Homo sapiens: one gene and its partner. The protein of the gene in region 1 purifies or fractionates together with the protein of each later gene. This does not show direct contact. Each region holds a gene or a part of one and is shown in the gene's direction. Other genes may lie near its edges. The genes, in order: FAM135B and ZDHHC17.

Region 1 (16,842 bases):
AATTCTTGTTCTAACACTCACAAGTTGGAATCTTGTTTCTTGCCATGTACCAGATATATAACCTTTTGCAAGGTTTCTAAACCTCTAAACCTCTGTTTTCTTATCTATTAAGAGGAACTAGCACTGAGATGATGTTTGAAAAAGGCCGGGCGCGGTGGCTCACACCTGTAATCCCAGCACTTTGGGAGGCTGAGGCGGGCGGATCACGAGGTCAGGAGATCGAGACCATCCTGGCTAACACAGGGAAACCCCATCTCTACTAAAAACACAAAAATATTAGCTGGGAGTGGTGGCGGGCACCTGCAGTCCCAGCTACTCAGGAGGCTGACGCAGGAGAATGGCGTGAACCTGGGAGGCAGAGCTTGCAGTGAGCCGAGATTATTGCGCCACTGCACTCCAGCCTGGGCGACAGAGTGAGACTCCATCTCAAAAAAAAAAAAAAAAAAAAAAAAAAAAAAGAAGAAGCAGAATGAGTTGCCCACCCCAAAGAGAGAGTTTCAATCAGCACTACTTTTATTCTTACACTGTACCAAATGTTTCAGTGACGACAGTGCTAGTAAGCAGCTTGCATTTTTCATGCAATTGAATATGTAGACATAGTGCTAATCCCTTGATATACATTATCCCATTTAGTCTTCATATACAAAATATTACTTCTTTATTCCACAAATGAAGCCTATAGAGGTTAGATTTTTAAAAAAAAGAATAAAAGAAAAGCTAGGTGAGGCAGTTTCATAGGGTGACACTGATTTCTTTTCTTGGATGGTTTTATGCTCATCATGAGTAGAGGTGGGGAGGTATAGCCTCTCATATAATAGGCTCTCAATAAATAAGTATTTAACTTGAGAATAATGATTCATTGAACACGTGGGCCTGTGAGTAGCAGTATGGCTGGAGCAGAGCCTGCAGGAGGGGGTCTAACAGCATGGGCTGTGAGCAGGTGGTTCAATATATACACAGCGGGTGAAGGAGAGGATGAATGGCATTGTGAGGCCATCCGTATATGAATGGCCTCCCAAGCAGGATAAGGACTTGGGACTTGATCCTGTGAATGACCAGGAGATTTCAATGCTCAGAGGTGCATTTCAGGAAGGACCTTCCCTTCCCCCAGGTGGAATTAAAGCAGGCTGCTCTAGCAGCATGAAGCTGGCTGAAATGCCCACACTTCTCCCCTGACTGGGCACAAAGCTCCCATTCACAAAGACCCCATCTCAGGCTTCTCATGGCCAGTGTTTTGAAACCTGATGAGGTTGAGTTGGCAGTCCCTGTTCTCTTTGCCAGTTCCCCTACATTCAGTGGGAGGTGGAGAACAATGGCCCCTGATGCTTCCAGCACTGCACTCTTGGGCAGCAGCATTCACCGTCACACTCATGGGTACCCCTTCTGTTTCTCCACAGCTTCATTGGCCATTCTCTTGGCAACATCATCATCCGATCGGTCCTCACACGGCCCCGGTTCCGGTATTACCTCAACAAACTCCACACGTTCCTGTCACTCTCTGGGCCTCACCTGGGAACCCTGTACAACAACAGCACCCTGGTTAGTACAGGTAAGATTCTTCTAGGACTCGTCATTCCTCAGAATTAATCTGGGGCCTCTGGGGCGTGAAACCGGGCACAGGTACTTCCACTTGGAACCCTGTGACTGTGCAGTCTTTTCCAAGCATGGCATGGAGGGAGGAGTCCTGGCCTTAGAGGTGTGGCCCTTGTGTCTGGGGGCTGAGTGAGGTGACACTAGATGTTTTCCAGGATCATTTCTGCCTTCAAATTTCTGTGAAAAAAAGGCAATGTCTCTGGGGTCCTGGTTGGAAAAGACTGACAAGACACGGTGTTGTGATGAAGAGAACAGGGACTCTGAATCAGGCCACCTGCATGACAAACCTGTGGTTAAGTCCTGACCAGGACACTTGAGGGAGACTGTGGCCTAGACATTTAATCTCTGTGCTCCTCAGTCTTCCTGTTTGTAAAATGGAGGTTATGTGTGTGTGTATCTGTGTTTGTGTATATGTATGTATACATATATGTATGTGTACAAGCATGTACACAATGTAAGTATGTATACATATATATGGTGTGTAGGTGCATATGTGCATATGTGTATCATAGAATTGTTGAAGATTACACAGGGGAAGGAAATAAGGTTGACTAACATCTATGGGAGGTTAAATATATCAGCAAGAGTCAGACAAAGAAGGACCTCGACTGACTCCAGAATATGTTAGACTTACCCTGTAGACCTTGTAGATACTACTCATGAGATTTTACTGAGGAGGTGACATGGTTTGGTGTATGGAAGCCCAAGGAGGGCATTGAGTTTTATATGTAATAACAAATCGTTTATTAAATCATGTTCTTAACAACTACCTCAGTAGTCCCTGATTGTTCAAACCCATTATGTGGCATTAGGGTCACCCCTGATAAGCTTCCTTGTCCCTGCAATCTTCCAGGCCTCTGCCACTGTCCCCTGTCCTCTCCCACACTAACGTTGTTTCCTCATGGCCTGGTCAGTTTAGTTAGTTTGCTTTTAAGTTATTTTATGGCATACTTGTGAACATGAGTTATCCGACACAATGGCACATAACAAATGGAAGTCCTTTCCTCTGCACTCTGTCTTTCCTCCCAAACCAAGGAAGCCATTCTTTGGACAGAAACAAATTTGTTAAACTACATTTTTCCCCCACAGTTATAAAGGAATCTTGCAGCATCATAAAATATTTTTTAAAAAGACAGACTTTACCAATAATATCTCCAATCTAGCATATCCAGAGTAATTTTATATATTTCATTCTACTTATCTTTGTGCACACACATTGACGTAGCAGTCAGTGTAATATATGTACATACCATAGCTTGCTTATTTCCTTGTGTTTCTATCAGATTAATTTGCTTGTTGTGGTTATGTAATCCTTACACTCATCAATGTTAGTGTTTGCCTAAGCTTAGCTAAACGCATGAGATTTTTGTTGTTGTTGTTGTTTTTTGAGAGAGAGTCTTGCTTTTGTCGCCCAGGCTGGAATGCAATGGTGCAATCTCGACTCACTGCAAGCTCTGCCTCCCAGGTTCAAGCAATTCTTCTGCCTCAGCCTCCCAAGTAGCTGGGATTACAGGTGCCTGCCACCATGCCTGGCTAATTTTTTAATAGAGTCGGGATTTCACCATTTTATCCAGGCTGGTCTCGAACTCCTGACCTCAGGTGATCCACCCGCCTCGGTCTGCCAAAGTGCTGGGATTACAGGCATGAGCCACCATGCCCAGCCAACAGATGAGTTGTGAAGTGAGACATTTATTTTAGCTTTACTGTATCCTAAATGTATCTGTAAGGATCATTTTATATTCTTTTCGCATTGAAAATTATTACCCTAGGCTTCTTTTTCGGAAGGAGATTGACTGGATTGAAGAGTGTGGGTAGTTTCTTACTCCGAAGGCTGTTGTCCTGTCATCATTTTTGCAGGATGATTTAAGTCCTTTCCACCAGTACGTGAGAGGACAAATTTACCTCTAACTTCCCAACTATTTGCTAGTATGCCTACTTCTCTCTTATTTTCAAGTTAACTAAAATTCAGTTTAACGTTCATCTCACCAAAATTCCATCCCAGTTAGTTTTTGTTTTGTTTTGTGTTTTTGATTTTTATTTTGTTTTTGTCTTCCTAGGCTTATGGCTCATGCAGAAACTGAAGAAATCCGGGTCTCTACTGCAGCTGACCTTCAGGGATAATGCTGATTTGCGCAAATGTTTCCTCTACCAACTAAGCCAAAAAACAGGTCAGTGGTTTCCCCCACAGCTGCAGTTATGAGTTTGAGCTTGGGATTCAACTCCTGAGACACAAATGAGATATAATGCTACATTGATTCACTCACAGAAGGGCCTAGTCAGGAGGCCCAGCACTCAAAGCCTCTTTGGCTCATTGGGAGGCCAACAGCTACCAGGAACTCAGCTCCTCTTGCCCATTGCCCATATGGCACGTGAGAGATTGAGCCAAGGTGTGTGTAAGATCATTTCAATAGCCAGAAGCTGTAGCTTCCACTTTGTGCCAGTTTTTCAATGTTCTCATTGCATAGGCCTAAGATCTGTGTGCCAGCTTCACCCAGGTACAGGCCCATCTACAAAAAAGGCAGATGCAACATTTTCCACTGATGTTGACTGTGCAGTGGGAGACGGGGGTCATTGTCAGGCAGGCCTGCTATGATACCTGCACCCTCTCTCTGTCATGTGGAAGTGCATAGAGGTGTTGAAGACCCTACCTGCTACATGGGAATGTCCACAGAGGACAGCAGTAATGGTGATCATTGCCGAGTGGTCCCCATGTCCAGTCGGCGAGTGGAGCAGCTGACTGATTGCCCTGCTCAGTCCCACCACACAAGCTGGCCTGGCCCAGGGTCTGTTCTTGGTCACAATCTTCCACCGTCCTGTAAACACTGACTCTGCTGATCCCTCTGTGCCTGTGAATCTGGTGTAGCCACGGGCTCATCTGTGAGCCTGGCTGAGTTCCTTTCCTACTTTCTGCCTCTGTGTGTTGAGTTGAGCTCTTAGAGCTATCTCCTGTGGAGGAGGAGGAGGGAGGCAGGGCTTGGCAGAAGAAGGTGGGACTGCAGTGTGATCACTGTAGAGTCCATCAGGGGTGCAGGAGCTGGGGTGGCCCTGGAGAGCTGTCCTGAAGGAAGGGGAGGGGCTGACCATTACACCTTTGTCTTCCTCGCCCATGTATTGGCCAGCTGTTGAAGTAGGCTGCCCCCAATGTGTGATGTCTGATGAGGGGACCCACACTTCAGTAGGGCACACATAGCTAAGAGCTGACAGCCGCCCACCCAGCAGGATCTGGGGAATGAGAAGGACAGTCTCAGTACAGATGGAGTGTCCGGGTAGTCTGCAGTGCTCAGGAAGTTCACGATGGGCTCTGAGGCCTGCAGGGATACACTGTGATGTTTAATTTGAAGGGTCCCTCTGTCTGCATTGTGGGGACAGATTGCAGGAAGGCAAGACTGGCTGCAGAGAGGTGAGTTCTGAGGCTGTTTTCCTAAAGCATGGGACGTGGTGAAGGCTGGAATTAGGAGAGGTGCTGGAGTTGAGGAGGAAGAACAAGATAGTCAGACTGACTTTTCCTTATGAACCCCTTAATATTTCTATCCCCAAAAGGCTTTTTTGGTCCCATTCTAGTTGCTTATTTCTCTGTGTCCAGAGTAGCTTTCTGTGTGTCTCCTTAGCTTTCATGGCTGATGAGAGCAGGCTTCATCTCCCCTCACAAACGCAAAGCCCCTGCTTAGTGACTTCTTTTCTCAACCTCCCATAGGCCCCCGCGATACCTCTATGCCATCTGCTGTGCATTGTTAAACCTCAGGACAGAATGTCCTTGTGTGATGACACTAGTGTGTGGTGTGTCAACATTTTTTCTCTCTATAGGACAAGTCTGGAAATTTGTGCAAATTTCCAGAGGGTGTTGAAGTTGAAACTACCTGGGTAAAAAGCACTCATCTGGCTAATTTTTACAGGGCTGCAGTATTTTAAAAACGTCGTGCTGGTTGCTTCTCCCCAAGACCGTTATGTGCCATTTCATTCAGCCAGGATTGAAATGTGTAAAACTGCCCTCAAAGACAGACACACAGGTAAGCTACATTTAATTTTTGCTCAGGGACTTTCTAATTTGAAAAGCAAAAGTAAATTCATGGAATTGACTGCCTATTGGGAACACCTGGGCTATAGGTTTAGTGCTGCATTTATCTTAGCTTAGTGATAGGACAAACATAGCTCATCTCGATGTTACTGTGCCAGATCCTTCCTTTGTGTAATAAACAGTCACATGTTTATTAGATTATGAAACTTCTGTTCAGTCCTATTGTGTGCCAGCCACTGAAATTGATGACTGGGATGTATAATTCAATGAGACAGGCCCTGCCCTCAAGGGGCACATTGTCTAGTTGGAGCCTCGACAAGTAATAGCAATGAGAGTAAAATGTGATAAGTCAAAAAATAAAATAATGCCTAAGGCATTAAGGCAGCCCAGAAGTGGAACAGGACATAGGACAGAGTCAGACGAGGATCCCTGGAGATGACAATGAGTTAGGTTTTAAAGGATAGGTAGGAATTTTCCAGACAATCAAGATGGATGTGGGCTGGCATTTGTGGTTTCCTTTGGTTAATTTGTTTAATTGTTTTTTTTTAAAAACATGTTTTTAGCTTTTAATTTTGAAACAATTTTATACTCAAAAAATGTTGCAACAACAGTACAAAAAATTCCTGCATACGTTTCACTCTGATGCCCAATATTAGCATCTTACATAACCATTGTACCATTATCAAAATCAGAAAATTAATACTGATTCAATATTATTATCTAATTTCTAGACCTTATCTAAATTATGTCAGTGTCCACTAATGTCCCCTTTCTCTTCCAGAATCCAATCTAATTTGTATATTTCTATGTCAGGCATATTGATTATTTTTTAAGTAAATAGTAGTTTTGTTATATTTTAAGGTACTATCAAAAAATAGTGTACCAAAGGTCCAAAGATTTGGTGCTAATATATAATTGGGTCTATTCCAAATTTTCCCTGGTATCTAGAAAATCCAACAGGAATTTTGATGAAAAAATTTTTAAAAATTAGTTTTAATACATAAAATAGCATTGTGTTTTATACCATCTAGTATATGTAATGAAAAGTAACACAGGGCATATTCTAAAATGATTCTTTTTTTCTGATTAAAAACATTATAGAATATTTGAAAAAGTCAAACTCATTTACATAATTTATGATCCTTTCTAACTCCACCTCTATCACTACCTACTTTTCGTGTTCTTCTAGTCTGTCTCTTCATGTGTGTTCATGATAAATGTTATAATTTTGTGTCATGATTTGATTTAGAGTAATATAGTTATTTGTCCATGTTAATAAAATATCATAAATACAAACACATTTTAATAATTATAGACTATATGCATATACCATAATTTAACAACTTCTCAATTACTGCACATAGAGCTTGCTTCTGGAAGGTTTCCTTTTTAGTTATTATGTGATGAAAGACTTTGCATGTGTAAACTTTTAATACATCTATGGTATTTCATTAAAATCGATTTCTAGTAGTGGTATTATTGGAGGAAAATGTTAATGAGTTACTACTCTTAAAGTTTTTTGCCAAATTCCCTTCTAAAATATTGATACCAGCAACACGTGTACTGTTAGAGTATATTCGTGCCTGCCTATCTCACTCTACTGTCTCTCAGATTAAATATTAATTTAAAGATATTTGCTTATAATTTTTCAGCCTGAATTTTTAAATATTGATGCTTTTTTATGTATATTTTTAATCCATTTTTAAATATTTTCTAATTGCCCATGGGACATCATTATATGCTAAGACCTGTGACAATAAATAAAGAGTCAATGATCTGGTTTTCAGTTCAGACTTGACTAAACATAGCTGTGGTCAATAGACAGCCAAACTGTTTCTTTGTGCAGGGATTTGCTAATTTTCCTTGCCTACTTTCTTGTCTCCCTGACATAGAGAAATATTTTTGTTGACATTTCAACCTTGGTAAAGCCTTAAGAACAGAGTTCAACAACTATGGTCCACAAGCCAAATTCAACCCATCTCTCATTTTGTAAATAAAGTTTTATTGAAACATAGCCACACCCATCATTTACATATTGTATATGGCTGCTTTCACGCTAGAATTCAGAATTATGTTGAGTAGTTACACTGCGCGTCCTGGAAAGCCTTAAATATTTACAGAGAAAGTCTGACAACTCCTGCTCTAGCATAGCAAATTGTATTTATTATGGGCCGGGCACAATTCATGCGCTTTGCTTATCTTATTTGATATTCACAATGGCCATTTAAGGAAAAGGGAGTGTATCTTCAAAGGATATTAATATATGACTTAAATTGATTAATCTTCCTGTTAGTCATCTTAAGAAAAAATCGCCCTCTCTTTTGTTAAACTTATATTTTCTGTTACATTTTTACACGGACATCAAAGAAGTGTGGCTTAATTGGTGAATTAAACAGATTGGGAGACTTGATATGAAGTTTAGTTTATACATGATTATCACTTTTTTTTTTCTGGAAGAAGTACCAATATTTTTATTTTTCAAAAATTCTGAAATAAAATACCTCTCAACCTCTCTGACTTCACATAACCTTCCAATTTATTCTCTACATTGTCATGTAGATAATTTGCCCCTATCCCAAAAGTCCATCAATTTAAAAACAGTGCTGTATTTGAGAAAACATATAAGAGTTTGCTATAAATGTTAAAAAATATACCAGTGATTGCCTCCAGGGCTTATGAAACCAATCAAGGTCTCAGCAGAAAATGATCTGGTTGAGTAATCACTACATTTTGAGTGACTTTTTTCTTTAAATAAATGACCTTCTGACCTTTATTGCATATACAATTTAAACAAATTATGGTATTTGTGTAACAATATATGCTTCTATTTCCATTTATTGGCAACATTTATTCATTATTCTTGTTATTACATAATATTCACATACATCATTTAAAAAATATTATTACGTAATGTTCATAAACATCATTTTAAAGGAGCACAGAATTGTTTAGCCCACAAAGCATGGTTTACTTAACTATTCCTCTGATGCTGAATTTGGCTGACCTCCCTTTTCCCTTGGAAGGACTATTTCATACATAAAATTACTGTGGCATAACCTCACATCATATTATTGCCTGTTGTAATGACCGCTACTCTAAGACATTAATGGGCTCTTGGGAATGACCATACCATTTGTTTTAACCCCAAATTCTTTTTAGCTGAATTGACATGGCTACAACGAAATCCCTAATTATTTCAATTTCACGTTACAATTCCCTTTACGTCAAAGCTCCTACCAAGACCCTAAGAAGGGGGGGAAAAGAAACACCCCCAAATACATACCCCATGCGTGATGGGGGGGTCCAGCTGTCCATCCCAGTCTGGGAAAGCAGACCTCTAAGTACTCTCCCCTGCTGATAACTGGAGGGAAAAGGAAAACGGTGTTGAGTTCCTTCACGTGGCATGAGAGAGTGTCCAGAGTGAGGCTGTGGACTGTTAAACTCAGAATAAGCTCTCTTTCATCATCCAAAGTGACTGCTCTACTGGCTTTGTAAAACAGACCCGGTTGTTTGGAGTGGGTACCCAGAAGCTCACCTGACTTACAACTTCCAATTACTGTCTCCCCAGTTGGTCAAAAGTAAAATATCCCAGCTCTCAGGATCATTCCAGAAAGTGTCTGTCAATGATACAAAAGTTGTCATAAACAGTTTTTCAGAAAAGAAGAACACAGGGCTGGGAGATATGAATCGTAGATCCAGGTGTGCAAATCTATCTATTGTTCAGCAATTCAATTGCACTGCATGGCTCCAAGACCTCCATGGCCTGAAGCAAAATTGCAACTGTGTCACTTTCAGGTGGAAACAGTCAATTCAGACTAACAATTGTAAAAACAAAACAAACCAACATAAAGAAAACTGCATTCTCCTTCTTTGGAATCAGAGGAGTCGGGTGAAATGCCACATGGCTTCCATTATGCATGACATCAGAAAATGTCTGCTTTCAATTCTCTATTGAGCTGTGTTTCCAACCCCCAAGATCCCCTGAAATAGAACTTGAAACTCTGAGGGTCCTCTCTGGTGTTGGCCTCCTTCTCTGCTACCCTGCTGGGAGGTACAGCTATTATTGAGAAACACGAACACTGCTATCATAACTTCCGGTGCATGGGTTCATAAAGCCGCTATTAGGAATCCCCTTCTGACTTCTGGCTATTGTCATCTGACTAGAAAAAGAGAACTTTGATTTTATTTCATATTAATTTCACTAACATTAGGAAGAGGTTGGAAACTGCTGTATAACAGGTCTGCCCAGGAACAGAATTTCGACACACATCTAGTGATGTTCTCTAGATTCCACTGCTAATTTCTGCACCAGCTTCATGTCCTTCTTCCCCACTTTACAGGGCCAGTTTATGCAGAAATGATCAACAACCTCCTGGGCCCTCTGGTTGAAGCCAAGGACTGCACTTTAATCCGACACAACGTGTTCCACGCCCTGCCCAACACTGCCAACACCCTGATCGGCCGAGCCGCTCACATCGCTGTGCTGGATTCAGAACTCTTCCTGGAGAAGTTTTTCTTGGTGGCAGGACTCAACTACTTCAAGTAGTGGCTTTGAGGGAGCAGGTCTTTGGTAATGCTTACGATCGGTGGAGAGCTTTAGCTGAGACCTGCTTTTACAGACCTCACCATTTCAGAATGAAGCTTCAACAGCATTGGGGGACGGAGGCTCGGGTGGAACCTGACATGAGAGGTGCTTTTGTTTTGGAGATTCGAGAAAGCTGAGCAAATAGACTAAATGACAACAAACTTTGCTTGAATTTGTATAGTTACCTGGAGTGTCATTCAAGATGTTTTCTAGGAAAAATATGAGAGAATAAACAGAATACTTGGGAGTTGGTGAGCTCCCCTTGCTAGCCACTACTGGCTTACTGAGAGATTACTCCAATTTAACTAGACTTGCCGAATATGTTACTAGCTTATAGCTTTATCATTTCTGATTAAGTGCACACAAGCATTTCAGAACTCAGGTTAATCTCTGTGCAGCAGTGGAACATATTTGTGTAAATAGAATCCTCAATAGATTCAAATGTGTCAGTTGTTCAAGAAAATGTGATGCCCATATTCATATTCTCTCCTCATGTTTTCTAAACAAGGGAGCAAGGAATGTGTTACAAATCCCAGTTCTATTTCATAACAGCAGTGAGCAGGGTGACTTAAGGTAAAGAGGGATAAAGGTGACACTATTGGTAAATACAAGTTTGTTACAAAGAAACATGACTCTAGGGACATACTGAACTATGAATAGTTGCTCCACCTACTTCCCCAGAATTCTTCTATGCAGAGCCCTGATCCACAAATTATTTTAGTGATTGCTTACATCTTTGTCTGTAGTAGGGAACACTGAGTGAGACTAACCTAGCAGAAGGGGGCACTGAGATGAATGCACACACGTGTGAAGCTCCTGCTGATACACTTCCAAAGACATGCTATGTTAGCATTTGATGCAATTGCAAAAAATTAAATCCATTAAAGTGGCCAGCTGCTTCTCCTCTCCATGGAAGGAGGAAAACATCTAAATGGAGGAGTGCTGGATTAAAACCTCAGGGGAGCTCTAAGAAGGGTGCTGGCTATCTTTCAATAGAAATGTCTTCTTGCCTTAGGAAAATAAAGGGCTAGGAAAGGTCACTGCGTTGATAAAAACCAATAGACGACAGGGACAAAAGTGAGATCAGATAGGAGGAGAACAACCAGACTGAAGACTCAACATAAGCTGTTATTGGTAAGTGACTCAAAGGGGAGTTTTGAAAATTACCAGGATGTTTAATAGTCAGGTCTCAAAGACTGAGTATGTTGTATGGGCTAAAGTAAGCCTAAAGAATCATTTCGTTGTATGGAAGAGATGAATGAACCTGGACAGTAGGGATAAGTAAGACAGGAGCCTAATCTTTTGGAGATGAAAGCTCCTGCTTCTGCAAAAATCCCTTCTGAAGTGTGGAAACGCATCTAGGACCAGGGTTCTCAATACCTAGACCATGACTCTAGGTCACTGATGCCATGGTAACAAAACCAAGTAAATCTAAGCTCATTTGAGAATTTTAGATCCTCTTATGTTAACAATGTGACTTTGAAAAATAAAAGCAGACCATGGGAATGAGTCCAGATGGGCAGCTTTGCAGGAGTGTAGACATGTGGTATTCTTTTGAAGAAAGAGAGGGTCGTTGAGGGAGAGTTGAATGTCTTGCAAAGGCAGAGTTCCACACAATGGATTTAGGGTTTCTCAGTGAGTCCTTTCTAAATGCTTGTTATATCCTGGTCATAATGCATATGGGTTCACTGAGTCCTCTGGTCACTTTCCACTGGGGATTTTTATCTGAGCTCCCGAGTCAGAGCTGGGCATAGACTCTGGTTCTTCATGAGGAGTGCTGTATTTGCTCTGTAACCTGGGAGACATTTGTTCCCTAGTCGTGCAGCACATGGTATTGTGTTTCCTGACCTAGGCAAGTGCCCATGCTCAGTACAGAACCATAAGTTGGTAGCAGCTTCTCCTTTCTGGCCAAATGATGGGCCCTGTCCCTCTGATGAGTGCATTTCATGTTGTGTTTCCAATTTTCATCAGCAATGTTCGTCATTCCCTGGTCCTTTGAAAGACTGTGTAGCCCGCGGTTATGGAGCCGGGATGAATCTGATGATCATCATCTTCTCCAATAACCAGATGCCATTTTTAACTTCAATATGCTGTCTGGACATAGTGAGAACTAATGGCAATAAACGTCCAGCTGCATGGTGCACCTCTTTTTTATAGGGGTGCTCTGCTGTCTTTGTAAACCCTCTCTGGCCTCTGAGCATCTATTATAATTGTGTAGAAAGTACATCTCTATATTGTAAATAAGAGTGTCGAGTGTTGCGTGTCATGCCTCATTTGAAAAGGCTTTTTTATGTCTCTTTCTATTGAAATATAGATATCGAATATATAAATATATATACATAAAATATATATAAATATATATTATGTAAAACAGGGACATTCTATTATTGATTGTAAAAATTATAAACAAAATGCCTGCCAAGATAATGGTCTTGTATGTCTTCATTCTCTGCGTAATTTTTGTTTTTGTTTTTATGATTTGTTGTTTCCCAAAATGAGTTAGAAATAAAAATGCCCAATATTGAGATTAATTGGAATTTGTTGTTTATAAGCCAAATAAATCCAGGGAAGCAGGTATGAACCCAAAGTCATCTTGTAGCAAAACAAATACCCCAATGGCAGTTTGAAAGCAGAGGGAGTGCTGTGAACCTGAGAGAAGGTGAAGACGGAAAAGCCCCCTGTTGGCTTCCACAATTCACAGGTATCTACTGAGCAGCTTCCATCCATCTGTGCCAGATGGGAGCACAGAGGTAAAATGCACAGTCCATGCTGACCAGGAACTCCAGGGAGATCCGGTCTTATCATCACAATGGGATATAACAAAAGCGCTAAGGAAGGCCGGGGCTGGTGCTCCTTGGTCCTAGGTATCCACTCCTTATTGCCTGGGGAAGGCCAGGAAGGAAGCGTTGAGAGTGAGACTTGAAAGGTGAGACTATTTACCTTGCACAGCCCGTCACCCCAGTGTGCACTCTTCCATTATATCATTCATTCATTCATCTGGCGAGTTTGTCTTGAGGACCTACTCTGTGCCAGGGATGCATTGGTAAAACTTAGTAGCTTACCATCTAGCAAGGAACACAGCTGATCAAATGGGAAATCGAAGTGGGTGGCCCCACAGAAGGGGTATGGTTCTGTGTGTGCTCAGAGCAGGGGCATCCACCTACAGCAGGGATGTGGGGTAGAGATGGTCAGGAAAGGCCTTTGGGAGGGTTTGGTGTCTAAGCCGAGACCCGAAGGCTGAGTAGGAGCCGGCTCGGCGAAGGTGGGTTATGTGGATCCCTCCAAGAGGGACAGAATGAGCAGAGGGCTTCAGGCGAGAGCTGAGGGCTGGGAACCTTTGACCACTGCAAAGGCAGATGGAGAATATGGTTGAGCACAAAAGTAGCAAAACAGAGGTGTGAGAAGTCAGCTGCCATGCAGGATTTTCTTCTTCTATCAGGAGGAAATTTCCATTGTTAACACTAGCAGGACAATTTCCACTTGGTAAGGAGAGCCCCTGGGAGAGCAAGGCCTGCCCCTGCCATCATGTGTCGCTCCATGCTTCACCCTCTGCTAGAGATCTGATCCCTCCTGTCTTGGGAGAAGTCCAGCCACATCCTCCACCATCACTCATTTCTGAAATTTTCTTTTGAGAAGCATAGTAGACATGTCTGCTGGGCTTCTCATGGAGAAAAACTGTAACAAATGGCATTATATAAACAGGCTAAGAAGAGGGAATAGTCATTTGGTTAAAATTTTTTTTTTTAATGCATGGAAGCAATAAAGTGAAATTCTTGTATTGGTATTTAAGGTGATCACACAAGCTGCTTTTGATCATAAAAATTTTATAAAGAAAGTTATTCAATCCTCAGCTTACAGTTAAGCAGTCTGCAGCCCCCACAAGCTTGGGGTAACTTAGTCAAAACTATAGTCCTTCCTTCGGCCACAAATGTTTCCTAATAGCCTGGCACAAGCCAGGTGTTGGTCGTAAAGCTAAAATAAAATAAAATAATCTTCCCATCCTGATGGAGGGTATACATGCAAGGGGAAAGTAGACAGAGAGCAGAAAGTTATAGGCACAGTGAGTGTGGCCAAGCCCATGTCCAGAAGGAGCTTTGGGAGAAACCAACAGGGAGATCACCCATGTAGTACATGAATGGCAAAGAACACACTATAAATAATGGCACATAACCAAGGTGTTTCTGTAAAGAAGAAAAATAGCCTTTAAAAGTGCTAGGAGGCGAACAAGTGTTCAGCTGGCTCTCGCTGTGTAAGATGATGGCATCTCTCTCTACGCACATGGCTACTTATTTGAAAGCTTGCATTCAGGTATTTGCAAGCTCCTGAATGTAATTGCTACTTTTTTTCCCCCATGCCATTAGCTTTGGTTTCACAGCATATATTTCTGAGCATTAGAAATAACCAGGGCTGCTAGGGACAGTTGTGGGGGTCCTGAAGGAAAAAAGAAGTGTGGCCATGGCAAAGAACACATAGAACAACAATTACGCTTTCTGTTAATTTTCTCGCAAGGCACCCATCCCAATATAGCATTACACGCTAGCATCTGGATCATTTTATTTCAATTGTTCACTCACTTATTTGTTACATGTTTTATTGAACATCTATTTTGTGTTGGGTACTGTACTAGGAAATCATGTCATCCTAGACACTAGAAGGATCTGGGGTAATGATAAAACTGAGTGTTTTACTTTTTTTTTCTTTTTTTTGAGACGGAGTCTGGATCCGTCACCAGGCTGGTGTGCAGTGGCACGATCTTGGCTCACTGCAACCTCCACCTCCCGGGTTCAAGTGATTCTCCTGCCTCAGCCTCCTGGGTAGCTGGGACTACAGGCGCATGCCACCACGCCCGGCTAATTTTTGTATTTTTAGTAGAGACGGGGTTTCACCTTGTTTCCCAGGCTGGTCGCAAACTCCTGAGCTCAGGCAATCTGCCTGCCTTGGTCTTCCAAAGTGGTGGGATTACGGACGTGAGCCACCTCACCCGGCCGTGTTTTACTTTTAACTGTTGGTGTCTAAAATAATGAATATCAGAATTGGAAGAGGAAAAATGGGCTGCTTCATATAGACTGTATCTGATGTCTATATCCTGAACTGTGCATTTCCAGCTTCACTTGACCAGACAGGTCTTGATCTATATATGACAAAGCACGGTCATTGTGGTGACATTATATACAATATTGTGTATAGACACACACACACGCACACGCACATATACTCTCTAAATGAAGAGAAACCACCATGGAGATTTTTCAAACTCTTTAAGGTGGCTTTCTCGGGATTTCTGTGCTTTTTCCTCCCTTTCTGCCTTTATTTATCAATTTTACCTTTTTCTTTACTTGTTTCTAGCTTGATTTTCCATGGCACCTGGGCAATTATGTGTGATGTTAATTAAGTTTCAGTAGAAAACACTATGGACAATTTGGAAAAGTGGAACTCTCTCCAGAGCTTTTTATGTTCAATGGAAATAATATAGTATTCAATAATACAGAGTTTTCAGTGCACAAACCCTGTAATAATCCATTTTAATTATTGGGAAAAGGATCCCAGTGACTTCTGTTACAGAAGAGAAAGAGCAGAATATATAGAACTGAGCTTTTAGATCAAATGTAAATGTATGGGTGTTGCTGAATAGTGTTTTGCGAATCATTAAACCAGGTTATTTCTCTATATTTGATCTCTTTATGACCAAATTATAAAGACTGTGTGTATCATTGTTTCATAGATGTAGTTGTGATTACAGTACTTTAGAAAAACAGTCCTCAAACCTCAAACTTTGTGTCATCACAGAATCAGAAACTTTTACAACTAAAACAAACATGGACTCTTGTCCATCTAACTTTTAACAAATGAAGAAGAACAAAAATGGAAATAATTTACAATATTCAAATTTGTTGGTTAGATTTTTGCATATATAGTTTCATTTAATCCCACACAACATATAAATGATGCTGGGAGAAGTCAAGTAACTTGCCTACAATTACACAGTTTAGCAGTGGTAGAGTCAAGATTTGAACTTCTAGCCTTCATTTTATCTTTTATTCTATGATTTTTCCAACCCAGAGAGTTACTTAATTGTAAAAGTCACATGTCTTGTGAAAATCAAAGCCAGAGTTCAAGTCCACATCTCCTAAACCATAACCTTTTGAGCCTTCTATTATAATATATTCTTATATGAGACATCTACATAACCAATAAATTAAACAGCAAGAAAAACTTAGTGGCAAAGGTAGTTATATAAAGCATTGTCAACAGTGTAGTTGGATGAACTGTTGCATTCTTTGCTGATCATTTATGTTTCTCAAGATTCTCTTTTCTCCTAGTAACCTGGAGTTCCTTTTCCAAAACCACACACCTTTCTTTCCACAGCTGTCCCAGGCCATGTTCTTCCTTCCATACATTATCTCCTTCTGCAACTCTCACGTTGCAGTGCCTGATCGTATTCATCCAGGATTCATTCCCTTTACCATAGGGTTTGAATCTACAATAAATGGTTCCTAGATTGCAGATTCCTGCTTCCGGATGAATTTGAGCTCAGTGCCTTGCCATCAGAGCTAGGTTTTCTCACGTTCCCATAAGCCCACTCTTTTCTCATTTCTCATCACATTTTTATCTGTGTCTCTATAGATCTCTCACATACGAATATTTTTTC
Region 2 (16,842 bases), on another chromosome or scaffold:
AGTATAGTCAACTGCTTATTGTGTTGACAACACTTTTGAAATATTGACAAAAGTTTATTAGAAATTTTATGTCTGAAAATAAGTAATTTTTCAATGTGGCTTTAAGTTAATTGAGCTTCTTTAAACTCAAGAAGGATATAAACTGTGCAGAATCTGGGATGATTACATATATTAAAAAATCAAGAATGTGCAGAATTAGTTATCTCCCATGCATTCCCTCTTAAGCATTTTTTTCTGTAGGTTACTTGTTAGACTTCTCTGTTTTCTGTGTATCTCTCCCAGTTTCCTTTTAATACCCTCTAAGCTTTTTAATGTCTATCTTCAGTTATCCAATCACCACTTTTCATGAATTTTAATAATATTGCTGTATATCTTTTTTTCCCACAAGAGTTTCTCTGAGGTTATTAAAGATATTCTATAATTTACATTCTCAATCATGTGCATTTGACTACTGTAAATGAAGATGGATGTGAGGGGAGGGATCAGTATCTTTTTCCCTCCATTAGAGAGGTCCTTGTTCCAGCACACCTTTTCTTCACTCAGTTGCAGTCTCAACCTTGATGTTCATCATGTTTCCTAGGTACACTGGTTTATTGATCTGTCTGCCTGTATTAACACTGTATAATCTAATTACTGTAGTTTTGTTCTTAAATTATATTGGAGCAGGGTAATTTTTCCAAGTTTGTTATTTCTCAGGAATATCTTAGCTCTTTTTGGCCTTTTGCTCTTCCATTTAGATTTTTTTTTTAGAATAAGCTCTTTGAGTTCCGCGAAAAGCCTTAGGCCTTTTTTTTTTTTTTGGCAGTCTTGCTGTGTTGCCCAGGCTGGAGTGCATTGGCGCAATCTCAACTCACTGCCACCTCCACCTCCTGGGTTCAAGCAATTCTCCCACTTCAGCCTCCTAAGTAGTTGGAATTACAGGCATATACCACCATGCCTGGCTAATTTTTGTATTTTTAGTAGAAAAGGGGTTTTACCATGTTGTCCAAGCTGGTCTTTAACTCCTGAACTCAAGTGATCTACCTGCTGTGGCCTCCCAAAGTGCTGGGATTACAGGCATGAGCTACCATGTCCAGCCAGTCTTACGCCATTTTGATTGAAATTCTATTTGAGCTGTAGATTAATTTACAGAAAGTAACTACTTTTGATACTTAGACCTTTTATGTTTTTTAATGAAGTCATATAATTTCTTATGTAGAAGTTTATATCTCTTGTTAGATTTATTTTTAAAAGAATTTTAATTTTTTTAAATTATGAATTTTTTATTTTTAATTAAAATTTCTGTTTGTGTCTGGGTTATAGAAATGTAGCTGATTAGTTATTGACAACAACCTTGCTAAAGCCTTTTATTATTTCTAATAACTTGGGGTATTTTGGATATATGACATGGGGTAATCATATGTATAAAGACTGAATTTTGTTTTTCTTTCTACTCTTTATAGCATTTAGCTCCTTTAGTCATCCTATTTTATTAGCTAGGATCTCAGTACACTGTGGAATAGACACAGAATGAGCATCCTCATTTTGTTCCTGACTTTAAAGGGTATCATCTTTAAAAGATTGACTTTAAAGGGCTAGTATTTTACCAGTGAGTGTGATTTTATAAAGTGTTTACTTGGATTTTATAAATAACCTCTCCCTCTACACCCCCTTTTTTTTAACTTTTTGTGAATTGTGTATGTTTTTTTCTTTATGCTTTTAATATTAAATAATATATTAATAGATTTTTCTAATGTTGAACCACTTATGCATGCCTGGAGTAAACAGACATGGGCATAATGTCTTATTTTTCTCTACATTGCTGGATTAAATATGTTACTAGTTTTGCGTGTACATTTGTGAATGAAATTGTCTTATAATTTTTTTGTATTGTCTTTGTTATGTTTTGATATCAACATGATAGCCTCAAAATGGGTGGAGACTTGTTCTTTTTTTATGTTCTTTGAAAGGGTTTGGGTTAAATTGAAATTATTAACTGCATGTTTATTAGATTTTGTAAAATCATTTTACCTGGAATTTGCTTTATGTTAAAGAATTTTGTAATATATAGTTTATTTGACTCAATTGTATATATATATATATTTTAGTGATTTGTCCATTTCTTTTCTTTTAAAATGTGCTACATTCTCTCTTGTTTTTTTAAACTCAGCTGCTGTGCCCCCCTCTCATTCCTGGTATTAATTAGAGCTATTTTCTAATCTATTTTATTGGATTTTTCAAAGAAACAACTTTAGGTTTTATTAATCCTTTCTATTTTCACTTTCAGTATGTTCTGTTTCCTTTTGTCTGCTTGTTTAGTTTTTTCTTTAGCTTATTAAATTGTTTAGTTTTCATTGATATTTTCTATTAGAAACATTTAAGTTTAAAAAGTAACATTTTGTATGCTACCTCAGCTGCATTCCATACAGAAGATTAAGCTTCTTAATTGGGTTGCTCAAGTCACTGTATCATTACCAAATTTTTATCTGTTTGCAGCATCATTTATTGAGCGACCTATGGTAAAATCTTCTACCGTGTTGCTATATTTAGGAGGTTCTCTTTGTGGTCCATATTTTGGAGTTTCATTATTAAGTATGTGTAAGTTTAGAATTCTTTCTAATGAATTGAACCTTGTATCAATATGTAGTGACTCATGGTAAAAAGCATTAGCAATGACTATTTATTTTAATTAGTATTGCTTTAAATAATTTATGGCCTTGAATTTTCGACATGTCTCTTGCAAATAGCATATAGGAATAAGCAAATCCTGAAGAGTGGACACTACATTTCTGAACCAGTTTACCTTTAGATTTTGTTTATTTATCATCTCTGGTCTCCATGGGGTTTTCTTACTAACAGCTCAGCAACACATTTAAAATGATTCAGGTTTTTGTGTTTTTTTGATACAGAGTTTTACTCTGTTTCCCAGGCTGGAGTGCAGTGGCGTGATCTTGATTCAGGGCAACCTCTGCCTCCCAGGTTCAGGTGGCTCTTGTGCCTCAGACTCTCAAGTAGCTAGGATTACAGGCATGTGCCACCACACCTGGCTATTTTCTATTTTTAGTAGAGACAGGGTCTACAAAAACTAAAAAAATTAGCCGGGTGTGGTGGTGCGTGCCTATAGTCCCAGCTACTCAGGAGGTTGAGGCAGTAGGACCCTTTGAGCCTAGGAGTTCAAGACTGCAGTAAGATATGATTATGCCACTGCACTCTGGCCTGGGCAACAGAGTGAGACCTTGTCTCTGTTAAAAAACTCTTTACTTAAGAACACATTTGTTACCATTGAGATTAAAAAACAACCAGTATGTTTCAGAGGATGTTAATCATTGTCCCTCAGATTTTCTTAATATACAGTGTGTCTTTTCAGGATGCAGTATTTAAAATGGAGGTTATATTTGTATACTATATGTAATTTATAAAAATGAAGGTTTTCTTTTATCTGAAATTTTCTGTTAGGATCTCTGAATTCTGTTTGATGTATTTATTAATTCTGGGATAAAACTATCCATGTGTTGAATTATCTTTGTCATCTGTGTTCATACTTTTGTCTCTACTCTTTATTATTATCATTATTATTATTTTTTGAGATGGAGGTCTCACTATGTTGGCCAGGCTGGTCTTGAACTGCTGGGCTTAAGTGATCTTCTGGCTTTAGCCTCCTGAGTAGCTGGAATTATAGGTGCATGCCACCATGTCCAGTTTTTGTCTCTAATTATTGTTTTGAGTTTTCTTTTTTCCCTCATTTACTGATTGTCAGTGTTTTTATCCTCCTTGTGTTCATCTTTATAAATTTTTAGTTCATATATTGTATAATGGTTTTTGTTTGATCTCAGTCTGTTTTTTTTCTAGAATCACGCTTTTCATCTGGTTCTAATTGTTTTATGATCTTATGTTTAAGCTTTTATAGGATTTATATTTTAATTTAATTATGAAGCATCTTTGGTTAATTTGCCTTTGTTCTTAATTTGTCTTTGTCCAAATTTGCGGCTGCTTTCCATACTGGGTTATTTGCTTTGTGAATGCTGTGCACATTTTTTCTGGTTTATTATTTTTGTTTTGTTTTTAAGTACACTAGCATAGTTGTTATGCCATTTCTTTTCATCTTTCATCTTGCTCGTGATTGACCTGGGCAAATATATTCAGACTTTTATGTTTTCTCTGATATATTTTAGAGTAATCTTTGAAGTTTTTCCTGTCCTGTTTGGTACAAGGATATTGAAGTTGTATGTCTGCCTTCAGTGTTACAGTTTGGCTAAATTTCTATTCATTTTTCTGTAGCCTAAGAAAAAGAGAGCTCAATTGTAAATTCTTGCTGAGAAACTTGGGTTTAGCTGTCTTAAGATCTTGCTGAAAGTTTTTCCTGAGGTTTTATTCTACGCAGCCTTAGAGATAGAATGATGTCAGAATTATCCCCCACCAGCCATCCCCTCAATTTTGTTAAGTCACCTTATTAATGACAAGCCTTGGTATTTCTTGATACTTAGTGGAAGCCATGCAGTGGTATTCAGGGACTTATGTTCCTGAAGGGATTTTCTTGACTTGTTCAAATTATCTACTCACCATTTCAATTATTTTTCTCCAATTGAGTGGGACTGAGGAGTGGAGTATGTATTAGTCAGTTCAAGCTGCCATAATGATATACCAGAGACTAGGTGGTTTAACAACAGAAATTTGTTTTCTCACAGTTCTGGAGGCTGGTAGTTTGAGATCAGGGTGCCAGCAAGTTTGAGTTCTGCTGAGGGCAGTCTTTGTAGCTTGCAGATGATGACTTTCTTGCTGTGTTCTCACATGGTGAGGAGAAAGAGGAAGAAATCTCTCATTCTACTTTATATAAGGAAGGCCACGGTCCTATTGGATTAGGCTCCCACCCTTATGACTTAATTTAAGCTTAATTGCTTCCTAAAGACCACATCTCCAGATGCAGTCAGATTGTAGGTGTTAGGGATTCAACATATGCATTGTGAGGAAACACAATTTAGTCCATAGCAAAGGGCCAGGGTGAAATGGGTGAGAATTCACATCTACAGTTTTTCATACTGCTAGTACAGGTAGAGCAGGATTAGGAGCTACCTCAGGCAGCCTGCCTCGCCAGAATCATCATCTTTTTTGGCCTTCAGTTTTGAACTTTATGATACATGTGGTCTGTCTCCTTTCTGAAGTTGTTGCCAGTATTTTGAGAGGCACTTGGTTTGTTTGATTTACTGTTTTTAATTCATTTTGCTGAGTATTATGGTAAATAAATTTAGTGTATGAATTTCTATTTTTGAAAGAAAGCCTAGATAAATTTGTTTAAAAATAAAATGAGAGCTGCATTTCATAGCAGACATCCAGAAAACATCCAACTAGATTAAAGAATTAAATGTAAAAAATGATTCTATAAACATTTAAGTGAAAACATTGATGGTAAATACTTGTTTTGTCTTTAATTCGGGGGCTGTTTAAACATAAAAGCAAAAATGTAAATTAAAACGATAAAATAGCAGGTATTTGCCTCTTAAATTGGCAGCGTTTTTTCATTACTGCTAATGCAAATGTACTGATCAGTCGTGTTGTTAGTGGGGTTATAAACTGGTATATCTTGCTGGAAAATAGTATAAAAGTGTCTGTGTATATTTATATCTCAAGCCTTAAAAATGTTTATACCTAAATATATTGTTTCCATAATATTTATTGGCATAGGAAATTGTGTTGAGCACTTTGGCGAGGCCGAATAGCATAGGTCATATGAGTCTGAGTTTTAATACTTGCTCTACCTCTAACTCACTCTGTAATCTTGGACAGTGTAGCTTCTGCTTCAGTCGTATCATCTGTAAAGTGGGGATAATAGCAGGATTTATCATAGGGTTCTTGTGCTGCTTAAATGGCACATAGTTGGTGATTAATATATTATTTTGTTAATAATTAGATACATTATGATACCAGTCATAATTAAAAATGCAGAATACCAAAATTAAAAGAAGTTTAATTCTGGGTTGTAGAGTTCTTGTTTCTGTCTTTATGCTTTTTTTAGTGCTTTCTCATTTTCTCTAATAATAAAATTAATACTGAAAACAGCCATATATTCATAGAGTGTGCCTATTTCCATTAATTTTTTTTTTTTTTTTTTCCGAGACTGAGTCTCACTCTGTTGTCCAGGCTGGAGTGCATGACGTGATCTTGGCTCACTGGAAACTCCGCCTCCCAGGTTCAAGCAATTCTCCTGCCTCAGCCCCCTCAGTAGCTGGGATTACAGGTGTGTACCACCATGCCTGGCTAATTTTTGTATTTTTAGTAGAGACAGGGTTTTGCCATGTTGGCCAGGCTGGTCTCGAATTCCTGACCTCAGGTGATCCACCCCCCTCGGCCTCCCAAAGTGCTGGGATTACAGGTGTAAGCCACTGCGTCCAGCCTATTTCAGTTAAAATTTTAAAATTAGCTCGTCTAATCTATTGCTAAAGCTAAATTCAGTCTACCATTTGAAGATACCTAATTTCTTTATCATTAAAGAGCAAGGAAAGACATTTTTAAAGTTCATTCAGTATTTAATTCCTTAATATACCTTTCAAATATGTAGTCATATATTGAGCTGACCCCCTGCAAATTTAATCCAGGTCCTGAGAGTTTGACTTATTTATTTACATGTTACGTTGGCACCTTTTCAAAACTTGTGATAAATAAAAGTGCTGCCCCTGAGTAATGTCAAGCCTCAGCATTCTGCACACTTTATTCTCCAGAATAAACAGCTGAAAGTTTGACTTCTTATTTACTCTCTGCTGGCTATACCGGTATATTTTGTGGAATAAGATTGGAAAAAGTTGGGGGAAAAGAGAGGATTGGAGAAAAAAGGAAAAGATAAGTCACTTTTGAATATGCCAGGTGATAATAACTAATCTTTTCTTCCGTCTTTTGTTTCTCCTGTATGTCAAGTGGCTATTGAGTGTTCTGGTATTTTCCAAACAAATATAGAATGATTTCATTCAAGAAGCTGTTCTTTTTCTATCTGTGCTTCATGAGAAATGTAAACAGTGGGTACACATGATAATGTCAAAAAGTCTTATGAAATTCTTGTATAATACTTGTATCTACATACAATCTTACAAATGGTATTTGAGTATACCTGGTGTTTTGTGTCTCAGAAATGTATTGCTCTAGCGACATTGCTGTATTTTTTATAGTGTTATTTAAATTGTTTTTTGATAATTTACTTGTGTTTATAAATGCCTAGTATATTTCTTACGTTTTTATGAGATAGAAAAAATGTGAACATATAAACTATTTGTTTTAAGCAAGCTTATATTTTTTCTGAAATCAATTTCAGTGTGTTCAAAAAAAGGCAAAAGTGAGAATTTTTCTTTTTTGACTTTCCTATAGTTAAAAGCAATCTTTTAAATATACGAGTATGATATCTGTAATATTTGGTAGATGCCTAAAGATTGCAGTGCATATACATAAAGTATATGTTAATAACTTTGAACATGAGAAATCTCTTCATTTTTGTCAAAAAATTAGTCATTTAAAAATTTTCATTGACTTTTTAATATATTCACTAACTTTTAAAGTGTCAGATAAGTCTGCATGATTTAAAATTTATAAAGAAGTCACATTATTTTTACATGTAGTTATAAACATAATGCAGAACAGTTTGTATTTTTTTGACTGGTAGGTGTTTTGTAAAATTTTATAGATTATAAGTTTATATATAATAGTAATTCATTTATCATTGCTTCTTTAGATTCCTTAACCTTAGGCACATCTCAACTTTTTATTTATCCATCTTCCATTCCTTGCCAATAGTGTTGCACTTTTCTACAATTTTGGAAAATCTTGGAAATCAGATCCAGGGATTATTAAAGCAACAGAAGAGCAAAAGAAAAAGGTAGCAAAATACCAACTAAGTCACTTGTATTTAACTGCCAGATTATCAGTATTTACAGCAGACATTAGAGGACAGAGGAATTAACTATCGTTTAGAATGTAAAGAAGTTTTAAGCTAAATTGAGATTATGTATCTTTTATTTGGTGCTCATCCTTGGTGCTCTTGTGATGCCTGTCCATAACACTTCCATGACATTTTATAATTTCGTGTTTCTCTCCCTTACAAGACTGCTGTGATTGCTTTGAGGGGTGAATACGGTGTCTTAAACATCTCTGTAAATCTCCAGGAAATAATTTGCATTCAGTAGATGTTTGCTGAATGACTATGTAAACTAGAAGGTTAATAAATTGGTTGATAGTGCAGGTACACCATCCCAGTAGCTAAAATATTTGTATATACCATCCAGGGCATCCCTTTCTTATAATGCAGGTAATTAGGAAACCAATATTATAATCTAACAATGTTGTGTATTTAGAGAACTGGACTAGAAGCATTTTAGATTATTTTAAGAGCTGTTTTATTTAGTCTCTAAAAACAGGACAAATTTTGATAAGTTATTCCAGTCCACAATTGACTAAGACAATGGCAGATTCTTATGGTCTAATCCCCTTTTTTCTGGGCAGCATAGAGATTGCTACCCTGTATTCTTCTTGCAATGAAATAGCAGTAAATAAAAGATTTTATTTCTCTTTTTGAACTCAAAACATCAGTAAATTAAAGATGAAAATCATGTTTATTGATTCATAGTGGTGGCAAAAGAGTTGGTGAGCATTGTTCAGTTTTGAATTAAATATTATTTTTTTAATTCACAGACAATAGTTGAACTTGCAGAGACAGGAAGTCTGGACCTCAGTATATTCTGCAGTACCTGTTTGGTAGTATTTTCTTCTTTGTTCTTCCCTCCCTTCTCTTCCTCCTGACAGTGGCATAGCATAGCGGGTATGGGGTGTGGGGAAAAGGAATAATTATTTTCAATGAACACATTCCCTGCTTCTTGGTATAAGAGGAAAGATGGTTAAAGGATGTCTGCTTCCCAAGGCGCTTATTCCTCGATGGTAGGCCTTGACTGTACTTTTGATTCGGAGGTGCCGTTTATTTGTATTCATTCTCTTTCTCTTTTCTCGCTTAAAATGTTAATAAATTAAAAACTAAGTAATAAAGTATTTCAGATCAAAGATTTATAATGATTCCCTAATAGATTGTTTTCTTTACTACATTTTAAGAAAATTTATACTTGTATTTAAAAGCCACATGGGAAAATCCATTAGATAACTGTTAAGACAACATGGCCTCTAAACAAGTTCAATTTGAGTAGGTGGTTTTTTTTGTTTTGTTTTGTATCAGAATGTTTATGTAACTTTGAACACTGTTTTATCATAGATTTTTAAAGTGGTCATCCTCATCCAGGTCATAGGTAAAGATATATATGAAATTACTAGTATTTATTAATAGAGTCAGGTATAGCACTATTGAGATTGTTTATTATTATAGACATTAATTTTCTGTAGGATAATACTCTTATGTTTAAATTATTTTTCACTTAGTTTTTATAATTAGTATTTGTGAAAAATATATATACTGCCACAGTGCTTAAATTATGTTTTTCTACATGGAAATTGAAATATTCCAAAGTCATACATAAAACTAAATGCTCTTTTATACTTATACACTGCAAGTGAGCTCATGTCTTAGCATCTGATTAATAATAAAGTCATTGACTTCATTTAGGATTATGGAATGAAGTTTTGAAACAGTTCTAATTCTGAAAATTCTTTATTACACTTAATATTCTTTGACCAGTTATGATTTTGAATATTCAAAATATATACAGCTTCATGTTTGGTAGCAACTTTAGGATACCGACCAGATTCTTTTATATATTCCGGCATTCTGAAAACAGTTTTTGTTTCTGTGCTTTACAATGGGTAATTTACAAAATTGATATTCTTTTTCTTAATATTTAGAATGTTTTAATACACTGCTGTTCTGTGGAAATATACTGTTCCACAAAGTATGCAGTGCTGATGTACTTGCCATATGGCAAACAAATTATATAGTCATTCAATACAGATAGCAGTTTCATTGTCAAATACATATTTGATGGCAAGAATAAGACTAATTTTGTCATCATAGCATAAATGTTTTATTATATATTATTTATAAGCCACATACTTCTTGTTGTAAAGAAGATTTCCTATTATAAAATCTTGCAGATCAGCAGAGGTAGTTGTCATTATATGGGTATGCTTCACTTTGGTAAGTAGACAAGTCCCTAAGGCTTGTAGATCAGAGCTTTCTTAAAAACGAATTACTTTGTTGATTGCACCCCTGCACTCCAGCCTGGGCCACAGAGTGAAACCCTGTCTCAAAAAAAGAAAAAAGAAAGGATTACTTTGTAAGTGATCCAAGGAACCTTGAGACCAAGTCACACCTTAACCAGTTAGTCTGTTTTTCAGATTTTTGACAGTGTTGCAGCTGAGGGTTGGAAGTGGGGATAGAAGTTGTTTGAATATCCTGCTGCCTTCTCCTAAGTAGATTTAGTCTAACAACTGTGGTGAAGAATAACTTACCCTTTTCTTTATTCCACAGATAATTTTGGTAGATGTAAGAACTGTGTATTCACTGTGCCTTTTCCTTGGTACCTCAAAATAGTGTGTAACTTTATGCAAACTAATGGAGAAATGGCAGTGCTTTTGTTGAAACGCTGAAGTATATTTATAAATTTTTTTCTGGCAAGAGTTAATAACTGCAGCTCTTTTATCATATGTCTAGCATTAGGACTGCCAGCCCTTTGAAGATCACCAATGAGTTCTTGTATTCACTTGGCTGATTTAGAGTAATGTAGGTTTTAAAAACCATTTCAAAATGCTTGAAAAACAGACATCATAAGCATGGATTCTTTATTGCCTGTCAATAGCTGAATAATGAATTATATGGGGTTTTTTTTTTTGCAAGAAATAGTGACTTCTTAAGCATGTTCTGCATTCTTAAATATGGTCATTTCAGCAGGAGAAATGCTGTACCTTAATCTGAGATCTCAGAAGGCACTTTACTGAAGAGAAATAGATGTGTACATATGGGTTTTTGCTGGATTTGTTAATTTGGGGAAGACAAATATTTTATTGATGATTTTGAATTTTAAGAGCTTTTTAAATTCACTTTTAGCCTGACCTTCCTAGTAAGGAATAATTTTATTTTATTGAAAAACACCAATATCATGACCATTAATCATAATGGAACATCATTTAGAAGACTGGAGATTGATATGTTTTTATTACTCAGAAATTTGAGGGATGTGAATTAAACATAGCATCATTCATCAAATCAAATTGGTAATTCTTAGCTTTTGTAAATTGATGGTTCAGTTCCATTCTTAAGAGCATATTTTCTAGAGTAGCCTCATTCTTTTATTCTTTGTTTTTGCAGTTGAAATTTTATTAAACAATAGTGACTTTTGGTTTCATTCATTTGGAAACCTTGATATAATCTTGTTTAAAAAATATAGTTTTATTTTTTTATAATTATATTTTGAGAAAATAAATAGTCAGCTTTTCTCTCTTAGTATAATGCCTTTCATAATCCTTTAACATGCCTATTAACAGATACGAAAACCGGTGAGGTCCAAACATTGTGGTGTGTGCAACCGCTGTATAGCAAAATTTGATCATCATTGCCCATGGGTGGGTAACTGTGTAGGTAAGTTGTATTAGTAATTTCTTCTGTATCATTCATTTAAGTTACTTTAGGTAATGAATAAAGTATAATATTAAAGTAGGCAATAGAAAGTTTATTACTCCACGCTTCATTTTCTCAGTTATCTTCTGGTTGACAACACAGCAACTCAGTTGAGAGAGGGAGGGAAAAAAATTACAAAATTAGTGGCTGATACCTTTTCTCTGTCAGTTCTATCTGGTGCCTACTCTTGATAAGGAGGCAAAATTTTTTTTTTCTAGTTAAACTAGAGAGATGAAGGCGGTAATATTTGAAATGATATTATGTGCAGAGGTAGAGAGGAATGACAGATAAGAACAGTACACACATTAGTGTTCAAGAATGGTATAGTCTAAGGAGAGAAACTACATGGTTTGAGACATGCCCCGGAGATTTTATGAGGTGACAGGAAACATTACAAAGATTGTTTACCTCTGTTGAAGAGAAACCTTTGGATTGTAAAGTTTATAAAAGTAAAGATAAAATAGGGCTATTTTAAACCTCACAAAGAATAGGATTAGAGGTCAGAATTGTGATTTATTTAGTTCTTTGGGACTTGAACACCATTGTCATCATTATATCTTTGTGTGTAATTGCAAGCATTCTTATTTAAGATTTTTATTAAAACATTTTTCCTGAAAACCACTTTATAAAATAATGAATGTATGTGTGATTATCATCAAAACTGTAGCACACCTTTCATGGCATACCCCTCAAAGGTGCATTACCCGTTGTTTTTTTCTTAGCTGAAAAACCTTGCTTCTGTGTCGTTCTTCAGGTGCAGGCAACCATAGATATTTTATGGGCTACCTATTCTTCTTGCTTTTTATGATCTGCTGGATGATTTATGGTTGTATATCTTGTGAGTACAATTAGTTTTCGGTCTTTTTAAAACAAATTTCTGCATACTTAGATTATACTTACCACACTAACAAATTACTATAATGACAAAGGTCGTTTAACTAAAATTATGGTTTGGACACCTTATGAAGCACAAAAGGGAAAAAAGATACAGCTCTATCAATTATGTCCAATATACAGTGTAAGCAAACAGTTAGCAGTTAACCACCTTTTAATACTTGTGTCCTCTGAAAAACATATTGGTTTAATAGGCTTTGAGAAGCTTCTGGGTGAAATACATCAACATTTTCCACATCATGTGCTTGCTTTACTATAGTAGCTTATAGATTAAGTGATTGTCTTAGTTCTGTTTCTTACCAAGCAGTTGGGAAAATATACTTAAAATTAAATTTGCAGAGAATTTGAAATATTTTGAAAAGTAAGGTATAATTATTGCCTATTAGAGAATATTAGTAAATATCAGAAGTTACCTTTTTAAGAATAAGTTGTTATTCCATCATGTGGGTTTTATACCTTAAAGGAAATGATAGATTTTTGTTGCATTGAGAATGCAGTCTGGAAAGAGTTTAAGTGGATACGTCACTTACGATGCCTCAGGGCTTGGTGGTGCTTGGCATAAAGATGTATTAGATCCTCGTTTAAATACAAGTCTTGGAAGGATGATTTTCTAGTCTTCCTGCCCCACAGATAGTAAAAATAATCAGTGTTATTGCCCTAATGAACCAAAGGAGGTTACCACCTCAGTTAAAGATTAATAGGAAGATTTGGTCAAAGAACTTGACCTAATTTCTGGCCCAGCACACCTGAGGAGAATACTTTCTTGCCAACAACAGCAGTATTTTATAGCAACTCTCCTACAGCAGGAGATTTTGTATTAGGAAAGGCCTACCTTGGCTGGGCATGGTGGCTCATTGCCTATAATCCCAAAACTTTGGGAGGCAGAGGCAGGTGGGCCAGTTGAGGCCAGGAGTTTGAGACCAGCCTGGGCAACGTAGGAAGAGAGACCCCATCTCTACAAAAAATACAAAAATTAGCCCGGTGTGGTAGCGCATGCCTGTAGTCCCAGCTACTCAGGTGGCTGAGGTGGGAGGATTGCTTGGGTCCAGGAGGTCGAGGTTGCAGTGAGCCTTGATTGAGCCACTGCACTCCAGCCTGGGTGACAGAGCGAGACCTTGTCTGGAAAAAAAAGCTCATGTCACCATCCTATTATGTTATATGCCCTCTTTCAAAAAAATCTCTTTCATATATCCTCTCATCTTTGTGTAAAGAAAATGTTTTTCTAAGTATTATGTGATGCAATACCAATCAAATAAAATTGTTAATTCTGAAGATACAGTGATTTTTTTTTAAGATTGGCTGCTCCTTTTCCATTTCTGTGTTTTTTCACTGAGATATAATAGGGTTATTTAAGAGTATAAAGACATTTGCTATTGAATGTCATCAGTTAAATCTAGACTGTTTGACTATGTTTTCTAAATGGTGCCAGCACAAATGCCTATATGAGGTGCTTGGATGATTATTGAGTAAATACGAGTACTTCTGTTCTGGCTTTAGACTGGGGACTCCACTGTGAGACCACTTACACCAAGGATGGATTTTGGACATACATTACTCAGATTGCCACGTGTTCACCTTGGATGTTTTGGATGTTCCTGAACAGTGTTTTCCACTTCATGTGGGTGGCTGTATTACTCATGTGTCAGATGTACCAGGTATGTGCAAAGGCATTCTTTTTAGTGCACTAAGTGAAAACTCTTCCATCCTTGCATAAAAGATAATAATATATTCTCTTCCTAACCACTCCTGCTCTTCAAATATTCATTTTATTTTTCAATTTAGTTTTCCTTTCTACCTCACTCTTTTGCCCCTTCCTCTTCTCATATTGTGAACTTTTGAATTTTAGTACTTATCTCAACAGAAATTTTAATCTGTTATTCCTGACTTAAATACATCCAGTTGAGTATGTGTGAGCTCAGATTGATGATGACATTAATTTTGTGTTTTTAATGGTATTTTTATTCACAAATACTAATATTTATTCAAAAGCCTTTTTTTAATTTTTAAAAGCTCATTCTCAGAGAGGCTGATAGGGAGGTTGTCTGTGCAGGAATAGCGCCTGTCCATGCACAGTGTCAAGTAACCTGTCTTTAAATATTTTCCACATTTAACTGGCTACTTTTCACAGTCAAATGATACCACGTAAACTAGTTCTGATGATCTCCTGATGGAAAACCAAAAACAGACTTCATTGTTTTTATCTTTATCCTAGTTTTCTTCAAATTAATTTTTTTATATTAAGTATTTAGAAAGAATAATGGTTTGTGCAGCCTGGCATGGTGGCTCACACCTGTAATCCCAGCACTTGGAAGCCGAGGTGGGCGGATCACTTGAGCCCAGGAGTTTGAGATCAGCCTGGGCAACATGGTTAAACCCTATCTCTAAAAAAAAAAAAAAAAAAAAAAACCCAACAAAAAAAAGAAAATTAGCCGGGCATGGTGCATGCGCCTGTAATCCCAGCTGCTGGTGGGGTGGGGGTTTTGGGGTGGGGGGAGGTGGCGGGGGTGGAATCACTTGAGCCCACCCAAGAGGGAGCTGAGAATTCGCCATTGCATTTTAGCCTGGGTGACAGGGCAAGGTCCTGTCTCAAAAAAAAAAAAAAAAAACAAGAATAATGGTTTGCTTTTTCTTTCCTCTTAGATATCATGTTTAGGTATTACTACAAATGAAAGAATGAATGCCAGGAGATACAAGCACTTTAAAGTCACAACAACGTCTATTGAAAGCCCATTCAAGTATGTACATATTTATAAATTTAATATTTTACCTGGTCATAAAAATTTTCTTACTAACCAGACTCTTTTACTTAGTGATATGTAAAATAGCTTTTAAACCTTTTTAAGATTTCTGTAGAAATAGCATCAGTTCACCATAATAACAACAAAACAGAATTCATCACATTAACTGTATATAATAAAGTTGTGATATCTCCTTATATTTTTTTCTTTTTAATTTTAAATTTGTATTCAGTCTGGTGCTTAGAAATAGTAGGGTCCTAAGTATATGAAATATTTAAAACTTTGAGTTTTACTGAAGTTATTACCAACTCTTCAGCTTTTGTGGTGCTGTCAATTATGGCATACTTCTGGAAAGCAAGCAGACCTTTAAATAAAAACAGAGTTAGTTGGGTAGTTTTGAGAATTCTCCCATAGGTACAAAAATTATATAAGGCACAAAACTGACTGCTTTTCTTTTCTTTTTTTTAGACAGAGTCTTGCTCTGTCACCCAGGCTGGAGTGCAGTGGCATGATCTCGGCTCACTGCTACCTCCACCTCCTGGGTTTAAGCACTTCTCTGCCTCAGCCTCCTGAGTAGCTGGGATTACAGGCATGCACCACGCCCAGCTAGTTTTTGTATTTTTAGTAGAGATGGGGTTTCACCATCTTGGCCAGGCTGGTCCTGAACTCCTGACCTCATGATCCACCCGCCTCGGCCTCCCAAAGTGCTAGGATTACTTACCGACGTGAACCACTGGTGCGCACCTGGCCAAAACTGACTGCTTTTCTAAAGGTGTTACTGGAGTACTAAAATTTCATGAACTTATCCTTGACATTTCTTTTTTAAGTTGTTATCCTTAGGTTCACTGCCAGATTCATGCTATTTATAATTATTTTGTCTTTTACTTTTTTTCTGTTTTAGAGATAGTTTGTCTCCTGCCAAAGAGCCACTAATTAAAGGTTTTTATCAAAAATTACATATGGAGCCAGGCATGTTGGTGCATGTCTGTAGTCCTAGCTACTTGGGAGGCTGAGGTGAGAGGATTGCTTGAGCCCAGAGTTCGAGGCCAGGCCGGGCAACATAGTTAAGACCTCATCTCTAAAAATAAAAATAAAAATGCATATAACACAGAAAGTATATGCACATTTGAATAAATTTAAAATATAATTGTGTAAGTCTTTAAATTGGCAAAAGAAAAAATCATTGTTGGCAGAGCAGTGGAGAAACATGAAGGCATATATATTTTATAGAGTTATGAATTGGTTCCTTCTTGCAAGTAACCTGAGTTTTTAAGTTTAGAAAAAAATATATTTAACACGAAAATTATATTGAATTCATGTATTAAATCATTTGTACTGACTGACGTGTTTTCTTTTTGGGGTGCTGTTTTTAGCCATGGATGTGTAAGAAATATTATAGACTTCTTTGAATTTCGATGCTGTGGCCTCTTTCGTCCTGTTATCGTGGACTGGACCAGGCAGTATACAATAGAATATGACCAAATATCAGGATCTGGGTACCAGCTGGTGTAGCGACATCTTATCCTATGAAGCATATTGCTGAGTGGTGCCTGAAAATTGTGTCTGTCCGTGTCTTTCTCACACTCGAATCCACATCCTTTGAACAAGAGCATGCTATGTGTAGGGCTAATGGTGAATTTT

Evidence for each region.
Region 2: the proteins of FAM135B (region 1) and ZDHHC17 purify together in Homo sapiens (affinity purification with mass spectrometry; 3 studies listed by BioGRID and IntAct, with this or other methods). This does not show direct contact.

What each region holds. Positions count from the first base shown.
Region 1 is NC_000008.11:138,125,905-138,142,746, reverse strand, and holds the end of FAM135B (protein FAM135B), read left to right. Parts: intron 1-1,397; coding exon 1,398-1,549; intron 1,550-3,650; coding exon 3,651-3,761; intron 3,762-5,397; coding exon of another isoform or gene 5,398-5,438; exon of another isoform or gene 5,439-5,480; intron 5,481-5,486; coding exon 5,487-5,600; intron 5,601-9,948; coding exon 9,949-10,154; 3' UTR 10,155-12,724; downstream 12,725-16,842.
Region 2 is NC_000012.12:76,834,273-76,851,114, forward strand, and holds part of ZDHHC17 (palmitoyltransferase ZDHHC17), read left to right. Parts: intron 1-7,709; coding exon 7,710-7,834; intron 7,835-8,646; coding exon 8,647-8,709; intron 8,710-11,436; coding exon 11,437-11,530; intron 11,531-12,323; coding exon 12,324-12,407; intron 12,408-13,960; coding exon 13,961-14,118; intron 14,119-15,103; coding exon 15,104-15,198; intron 15,199-16,574; coding exon 16,575-16,713; 3' UTR 16,714-16,842. UniProt on the Homo sapiens protein: Palmitoyltransferase that catalyzes the addition of palmitate onto various protein substrates and is involved in a variety of cellular processes.